Regions from separate parts of the Homo sapiens genome. Here region 2 is linked to region 1. The links come from fine-mapping of genetic effects on gene expression. Tissue or cell type: blood mononuclear cells. Region 1 holds a variant in brackets; the other region holds the start of a gene. All regions are shown on one strand. Distances are from middle to middle.

What was found. PIP is the estimated chance that this variant, and not a neighbour inherited with it, causes the effect.
Region 2: CASP5 starts here. The variant in region 1 is fine-mapped to the expression of CASP5 in blood mononuclear cells (TOPMed, PIP 0.98).

The regions. Positions count from the first base shown.
Region 1 is chr11:104,997,182-105,001,181 of GRCh38, forward strand. It overlaps CASP5 (caspase 5), which reads right to left. Exons shown (of 10, transcript NM_004347.5): 6 at 3,080-3,314; 7 at 1,704-1,847; 8 at 202-311. Among named protein-coding and RNA genes, the nearest start is that of CASP5, 24 kb to the right of the region's middle. RefSeq lists an enhancer at 3,101-3,395. The variant G/C (reference allele first, on the strand shown) is at 1,800.
Region 2 is chr11:105,021,053-105,025,770 of GRCh38, forward strand. It overlaps CASP5 (caspase 5), which reads right to left and starts at 2,116. Exons shown (of 10, transcript NM_004347.5): 1 at 2,078-2,116. The coding sequence starts at 2,084. All of the region lies in intron 1 of LOC124902742 (a long non-coding RNA gene), which reads left to right. It overlaps CASP1 (caspase 1), which reads right to left. Exons shown (of 9, transcript NM_001257118.3): 9 at 4,456-4,718.

The DNA.
Region 1 (4,000 bases):
TGTTTTACTTTGCTCTTCTTCTGGGATATATTGACATTTTCTTTCTCTAAAGCAGATTTTAAACACCTGAATGACAGAAATCAGGTGCCATACTACTTTTGCTTGCCTGAAAAACTGTGTCATTTTTATTCGATTAGTGAATAATGATAAATTCTTTCTGAGCAAATAAGTAAATGACTAGAAAAGGAAATGGAAGCTTACCTTCCGAAATATTTCCATTAGGTGGCAGCAGCAAGAATATTTCTGGAAGCATGTGATGAGTTCCGTAATGAAGATGGAGCCCCTTGTGCGGTCTCTCCAGGACACGTTATCTATGATGATACAGCCTGGTATGCCTTGGGCTACGACTTTCACTATGTTTTTGTTTATATTTTTGTTTTTGCATAGCTTGAGAATTTACTTGATAGATTTATGGAAATCCCTTATAACCAAACATTTACTTAGGTTTCACACAGAGGAAACAGAAAAGCTGGCAAAGGTTGAACAAAAAAGACAGCTTGTAAGTATTGCAAGAGATTGCATAGTGATTGTATTTTGATTCTTGGAACTAACTTTTTATTATGGACCTCATGTTCATTCACTTTGCTTAGAAAAGGGGACTTGAGAAATAACTGGAATTCTTTCACTTTACAAAGGAAAGAATAGAAGCTCAGAAGGATGAATAAACTTTTAGGTTCAGTGAGGAAGCAACAAAAAACTACCGTCGGGCTCCAAGATTGTTTACAGATTGCACCATGATGTCTTTCACCATAAAATAAACAAAATAGATGAACACATCCAAAGTTTCAGTTATAGAAGATTAAAATATAGAAAAATACTGTATAATATGGTGCCAATAGTAAATAATACTGTCTTATATACTTAAAAATTTGCAGAGAGTAGATCTTATGTAAATTATCCTTATCACACCCTTGCAGAATGATGATAATAATAAATAGAGAGCTGGAGGAATCTTTTGGAGGAGAGATGTTTACAGCATAGATTTGGGTGATGATTTTAGGGGTGTGTACTAATCTCCAAACTTATTGAGTTGCATACATTAAATATGTACAGTTTTCATATGTCAGCTATGCCTCCATAAAGTGGTTTAAAAATAAGACTTGAAAATTTACAACTTGGAAAGAGTAAAATAGAAAGCCCTTTAGGATGATTACCTAGAGGTGAAATACAAACGACTGTTTCCTGTAATTAGACCTAATTAGCTCCACCCTAACATTTCTTACCTTTTTTAAAGCTCATTCACATTTTTATCTGGACACTTAATAACATTGCTCTTTGTAGGATCAAGTGGGATATATGTAGAAGAGGGCTTGAAGTTGATCGTTTGGAAAGACAGCCAGTACTGGGATCCATAAAACTTCTATTCAAAATGTTAAATGGATTTATTAAAAAAACAGCATCCATCATCTATGTTTACATGGTGTGTGGCGAATGGGGTTCCTTGTATTGTATTGCTTTAATATTTGGTATGCCTTTGACTGTAAAGTGTAACACTTATAATAAAAGTACAGTTTTTTAAAATGTGTGTGTGGGAGGGGGAAGGAATCTATTCTCACAGCACACATAAGATCATGCAAAATATATAGAGAGCACACACCATTCTCTCAGCTCATTGTTGCATAGGGCCTATCTTGATTTCATAGAATCATTCAAAGGTGGCCTCAGCACCCCCAAATTTTTGACTGTTACTAAAAGACACATACGTGGTGTTGAAGAACAGAAAGCAATGAAGTCCTTCTCCTCGTGGATCTTGCAAACAGAATCTGCCTCCAGGTTCTCAGATGACTGTGAAGAGATGA[G/C]TGCCAAGGATGCTGGAGAGTCTCTGACCCAGAGTTCCCCATGTTTTTCTGTAGAGACATCAACTTTCTTTTTTTTTTATGTTACTTTAAGTTCCAGAATAGAAATGCAGAACGTGTAGGTTTGTTACATAGTTACGCATGTACCATTGTGGTTTGCTGCACCTATCATATAGGTTTTAAGCCCACATGCATTAAGTATTTGTCTTAAGGCTCTCCTTCCCCTTGTCGCCCACCCCCCGACTGGCCCCGGTGTGTGATATTCCCCTCCCTGTGTCCATGTATTCTCATTGTTCAACCCTCACTTATAAGTGAGAACAAGTGGTGTTTGGTTTTCTATTCCTGTGTTAATTTGCTGAGGATGATAGCTTCCAGCTTCATTCATGTCCCTGCAAAGGACATGATCTCATTCCTTTTAGGGCTACACAGTATTCCATGGGATATGTGTACCACATTTTCTTTGTCCAGTCTATCTATCATTGATGGACATTTGGGTTGGATCAAGAGACATCAACTTTTTATACACTGATGTGCCTCACTTAGCATGGCTATCACAATTGCCCACCTTGTTATTTTTCAGTGTTCTTTCTAACTAATTTCATACATACATACAGACCCACACACATGCAAACACACACACACATTTTGCTTTGTCTCTAGTGTCATTCAACAATGTGTAAATTAATAGTGAATTTATCATGTCATTACCAGTTTTCAGTTAAATTATTGCTGCTTTCTTAAAGAAACAAAACAAAATATACATCCCAATAGTCATGAGGTAATTGGAAGTCAGGAATAAAAAGAGGGAGAGAGAAGATTGACTTAAATCCCCTCAAGTTTCCTTAACTCCCAACTCATTTTCCCTTCAATAATTGTGAATAAATAGGGTGCTTGTATCACATAATAACTTCAGTTTCAAGTGCAAATTCTTCAGAAACCACATAATGTCAACATGTCTGTAAATCATTTACAAATCAAGCTATCATGTAAATGATTCCATTTCAAAGTTTGAATATTTCTGTTTAACTTTGATTTAGGGATTCTGATGATCTCCTTCACCACTTCCTTCACCACTATCACCGTGGATAAAATTGTACAGAAATTTCTCCACTGATGAGACAATTTCTCATTATATCAGCCCCTTAGGTAGAGTTTCTTCATAATTCAATGTACTTTATTTGCACTGGATGGGGTCTAACATTGTTTCCCCTAAATATAAACCAAACATCACAATCCTCTGCATACACCTTCAAAACTGTTAGATGTTCAGCCTCAGCACTCACCACCTCTGCAGGCCTGGACAATGATGACCTTGGGTTTGTCCTTTAGACTGAGGCAGTTGCGGTTGTTGAATATCTGGAAGATGGTGTCATAAAGCAGCACATCCGGTTTTTTCTTTTTATGCGCAGTTCCGCAGATTCCCTCTAGGATGCCATGAGACATGAGTACCAAGAACGTGCTGTCAGAGGACTTGTGCTCTGGTCTGGCAGCAAATGCCCTCAGCACTGACTCCATATCCTATAAAAGAGCAATGTCTAACTTCAGTCAGAGAAGCATCACAATTAATAGGACCTCCTAGATTTACCATGAGCGAAACAAGAAACATATGTAACATCCGGGTCGTGGTGCTTCACATAGCGCTTACTCAGTCATGACAGCAGTTTTATGTTTTTTTGTTTTGTTTTTTTTTTCCTTTGTAATGGGGCTGTGGGTTCCTACTTTTTCTCCCTGCTGACACACCATACACTGTCTTCTTAATATATTGTATATTTTTATATGTTACTTATATTACTTTTTTTTATCTCAATCTTTTCTCTCCTTTCCTAACAAGAGTCATGTGTTATAAACGCATCACACCACTGTCCTTGTAAAACCCAACATACGTTGCTTAGAATAAAATCAATCTTCTGGCCTGACCATACTCATCCTTATACTATGTCTGTTCTGCTTCAATCTCTAGTCACACTGATCTGTTGTGCCTCACATGTGCCAGTTTCATTTTCAGCTCAGCTCTTTCACAGGTAGCGCCCCCTACTGGGAAGGCGCTGCATTCTCATCTTCCCAGAGCCATTCCATTCCTTCCGGTAGTGCCGTCCAACTCCTGTGTTCTCTCCCCACAGAGGCTTTTCTGGACCAACCCAAAAACATCGCACCCCATCCAACATTCTCTCTCATGTTTCCTTTTTGCTTACTTTGGATTCTCT
Region 2 (4,718 bases), 24 kb after region 1:
TGCGGAAAGGATTCCCTATTTAATAAATGGTGCTGGGAAAACTGGCTAGCCATATGTAGAAAGCTGAAACTGGATCCCTTCCTTACACCTTATACAAAAATTAATTCAAGATGGATTAAAGACTTAAAAGTTAGACCTAAAACCATAAAAACCCTAGAAGAAAACCTAGACATTACCATTCAGGACATAGGCATGGGCAAGGACTTCATGTCTAAAACACCAAAAGCAATGGCAACAGAAGCCAAAATTGACAAATGGGATCTAATTAAACTAAAGAGCTTCTACACAGCAAAAGAAACTACCGTCAGAGTGAACAGGCAACCTACAAAATGGGAGAAAATTTTCGCAACCTACTCGTCTGACAAAGGGCTAATATCCAGAATCTACAATGAACTCAAACAAATTTACAAGAAAAAAACAAACAACCCCATCAAAAAGTGGGCGAAGGACATGAACAGACACTTCTCAAAAGAAGACATTTATGCAGCCAAAAAACACATGAAAAAGTGCTCACCATCACTGGCCATCAGAGAAATGCAAATCAAAACCACAATGAGATACCATCTCACACGAGTTAGAATGGCAATCATTAAAAAGTCAGGAAACAACAGGTGCTGGAGAGGATGTGGAAAAATAGGAACACTTTTACACTGTTGGTGGGACTGTAAACTAGTTCAACCATTGTGGAAGTCAGTGTGGCGATTCCACAGGGATCTAGAACTAGAAATACCATTTGACCCAGCCATCCCTTTACTGGGTATATACCCAAAGGACTATAAATCATGCTGCTATAAAGACACATGCACACGTATGTTTATTGTGGCATTATTCACAATAGCAAAGACTTGGAACCAACCCAAATGTCCAACAATGATAGACTGGATTAAGAAAATGTGGCACATATACACCATGGAATATTATGCAGCCATAAAAAATGATGAGTTCATGTCCTTTGTAGGGACATGGATGAAATTGGAAATCATCATTCTCAGTAAACTATCACAAGAACAAAAAACCAAACACCGCATATTCTCACTCATAGGTGGGAACTGAACAATGAGAACACATGGACACAGGAAGGGGAACATCACACTCTGGAGCCTGTTGTGGGGTGGGGGGAGGGGGGAGGGATAGCATTGGGAGGTATACCTAATGCTAGATGACGAGTTAGTGGGTGCAGCCCACCAGCATGTCACATGTATACATATGTAACTAACCTGCACATTGTGCACATGTACCCTAAAACTTAAAGTATAATAATAATAAATAAATAAATTAAAGAAAAAAAAAGACTGCAGATTATTCATATATGTTATAAGGTTTAGAAAGCACTGATCTATTCCAGTTTCTTCCTTTTTCCAGTGAGGAGAATGAAACCAAAGACGCAATATGACCTGCTGGAATACGAGCTGCTTAAGTAGCCCAGGACTCCAACTCATAGGCTTTTTTAGCTTCTGTGTATAAGACAGTTGGCCTGAAAGTAGTGTGCAGTATGGACTGAAGGGTTAAGTTTTTGGGAGTGGGAAGACAGTTAAAAGTCTATGATAGCAACCTAAGATATATTACATTATAAGAGTTAGTACCAGGACTACATAGAAAGGTGGAAAAATGCAATCACTTTAAACAGACCAATAAGATAATTCAAGATAAGAGATGACAACACGTTGAGAACACAGAGGCTCTCAGATCTGATTGTGGGGAGAAGGTTCATAGTCTGGAGGATTAATTTGGAATCAAGAGGAAGCAGAGAAGATTTCAGAGTGCATTTAGAAATTTCCGGAGTTTTCTCACACAAATAACTTACTCTGTCTTTCCTTACTCTCTCTTTGATTACCAGAAGCTGAAAGAAAGGAATTAACCTTTTTCTGGCTTGAAAACATCTAGAGAACATACTCTCCTTCAGTGTCTCTACACAGTCTCAGGATTCAAACTACATACCACCAATAAGAGAAAGATTCAGCATGCACACTATTGGTTGATTTCCCTTTTGGTATTTCTGCCTGTCACATAGCAATAAATCAAGATTTTTCTAAGACCTGAGTACCCAGCTGCTAGTCAGAAAAGGGCCCAGACTCACCAGCCATAGCTAACAGCCTCTGTCTCTTTGTACAGCACTGGAAAGTGCCTCAGACTCAGAGATAAAATACACTAGGTACTTCCTTATTGCAGGGAGTGGGGACAAGTGATTACAGATTATGGGAAGTTGCTTCTGGGAACCTATAGTTTCATCATTGGGAAGTGCCCTGTAGTAAGCAAATTGGCTTTCTATTCTTGAACTCTAGATTCTTCCCTGGGGAAAAAAAATGCAAATGACAAAACATTGTTTTGTGGGTTGAAACCTCAGCCTGGTTTTCTTTTTCCTTTTCTCTCTCCATAGCCCCACATCTTCTTTTATTCATCCCTCTCTTCTGATCTGTCAGTTTTTCTACCTCTGCTCGTCTAAAAACACATGTCCTGAATGAGTAAAATCTAACTAGTTTCCTTGCATCTTCCCATAAGAATTAACCAAATATTTTGTATATCTTGGGTTTCTTTATTTTTCATTTCAATTTTTATTTGAGTTTCAGGGGTACATATGCAGGTTTGTTACAAGAGTATATTAGGTGATGCAGAGGTTTGTAGTACAATTTAACCTATTACCTAGGTAGTGAGAATAGCACCCAGTACATAGTTTTTCGGCTCTTGCCTTCTTCCTTCATTCCTCCCTCTGGTATTTCCCTGTGTCTGTTATTCCCGTCTTTATGTCCATGTGTACACAATATTTAGCTAGAACTTACAAGTGAGATTATGTGATATTTGGTTTTCTGTTTCTGCATTAATTTGCTTAGAATAATGGCCTCCAGTTGCATCCATGTTGCTGCAAAGGGCAGGGTTTCATTTTTATGGCTGTGTAACATTCCATAGTAGCAGTGTACCACATTTTTTTAAATCCAATCCACCATTGATGGACACCTGGGTTGATTCTATTATTTTGGCTACAGTGAATAGTGCTGCGACAAACATTTGAAAGCACATGTCTTTTTGATAGAACAGTACATTTTCCTTTGAGGATTCAGTCAGTAATGGGATGCTTGGACAAATGATAGTTCTTTTTTTAGTTATTTGGTAAATCTCCAAACTGCTTTTCAAAAAGATGGATGCATCACATTACTGGACTTCAAGCTATGCTAGAAGTCTACAGTAACCACAACAGCAAGGTATTCGTACAAAAAAAACAGACACAAAGCCCAATGGAACAGAATAGAGAACCCCAAAATAAAGCCACACACCTATAACCAACTGATACTCAACAAAGTCAACAACAACAGCAAAAAGAAACAAGGAAAGGATTGTTTATTCAATAAATGTATTTCTTGTTTAAACTGTGCTGAGGAATCATGATGGAGTCTTCTCCTCCCCATCTCCCTGTCATCTTACGCTTTGATTGGAGACAGTTCTGAAGGAATCCTCTTATCTACTTCCTGGAATGCTGTTCTTCAACTGACTAAAACTGCTTTAACAGTTAATTTTTACTTAGGGTGGCAATTCACTTCTCCTTTTTGATATTCTCTGAGCAAAGACTGATCACAGATGTAGTCTCAGGTTGTAGTAGAGTATGCATGATAACACAGAAGAGATATGCCCAGAGAAACAGTTAATAAAAGGTAAAAAAAAAAAAAAAGAGAGAGAGAGAGAGACTGTAATGTGTTCAACTATGAAGGTGTTTAAGAAGTCAGAAATTAACTCTCATTTAATCTGTTAAATATTAGAAAAAAACATATTTGCAAGTAAGGGGTAGTTCTTCGAATCCTCCCTAAATCTTAACATCCCTGAGTGCATGATTTCACCCCAAACTCGTTTTCTCTGCACCATGCCAGGACTTCACTGTGCACACCATGCATCCTAGAGTTTCTTCAGGGTGTCAGGCACCATCTGCCAAGCGCTTCATTTTGGATGGCTGTCTTATCTTTTCAAGAAGTCTGTGAACTACTGAGGGTTGATTCAAAACTTACTTTGTCTTAAATACTTTTGCAAAGGGTAGAAACATGCAAGTTCATGGATTTGTCAGTAGCAAACTGTGGGATTTGGGAAAAGTTCTTTATCACACTACACTGTCGCTGTCATAACTAGCTGTCTTCCCCCGTCTCTCCTGCTGAGCTCTAAATTATTTGAAGTCAGATACCTGCTGTAACTTATATCACATCCCCAAAGCAGAAAGCCCAGCAAACGATTTTTCTTTTTTTAAAAATGGCACAAAATAAATTTTTGTTCAAGAAAGTAATTAATAACATTGCTATGTTTGTAAGTCTGATTTTCTTTTTTAAATTTTTATATTTTATTTTACTTTAAGTTCTGGGAAAGAAAGGTGCCAATAGCCAGTTTGGGTCTGACAGATTAAGTCAAACACTCTAAATTCCTTAGTCACTCTAAGTTCCAGTCCCTGTTTCTTCAGTGTGGGAGAAAAATGAGGACAAGTTTTCATTTTTCTACCAGATTTATTATTTCAAAAAAGTTTATTATTCAGCAGACATAATTCCAAAAACCTTTACAGAAGGATCTCTTCACTTCCTATGAGAAAAAGAAATAATTAAAAAAAAAAACATAGGAAAGAATTTTGTTAAAGACATGCAAGTTATAAAGTTATACCACCAATGGGAACATACACAATTTTAAAAGGAAAGACCACATGCTATGTTTAAATATACCCTGCTGAGGTGAAGGAGAGAAACATCCAAAAG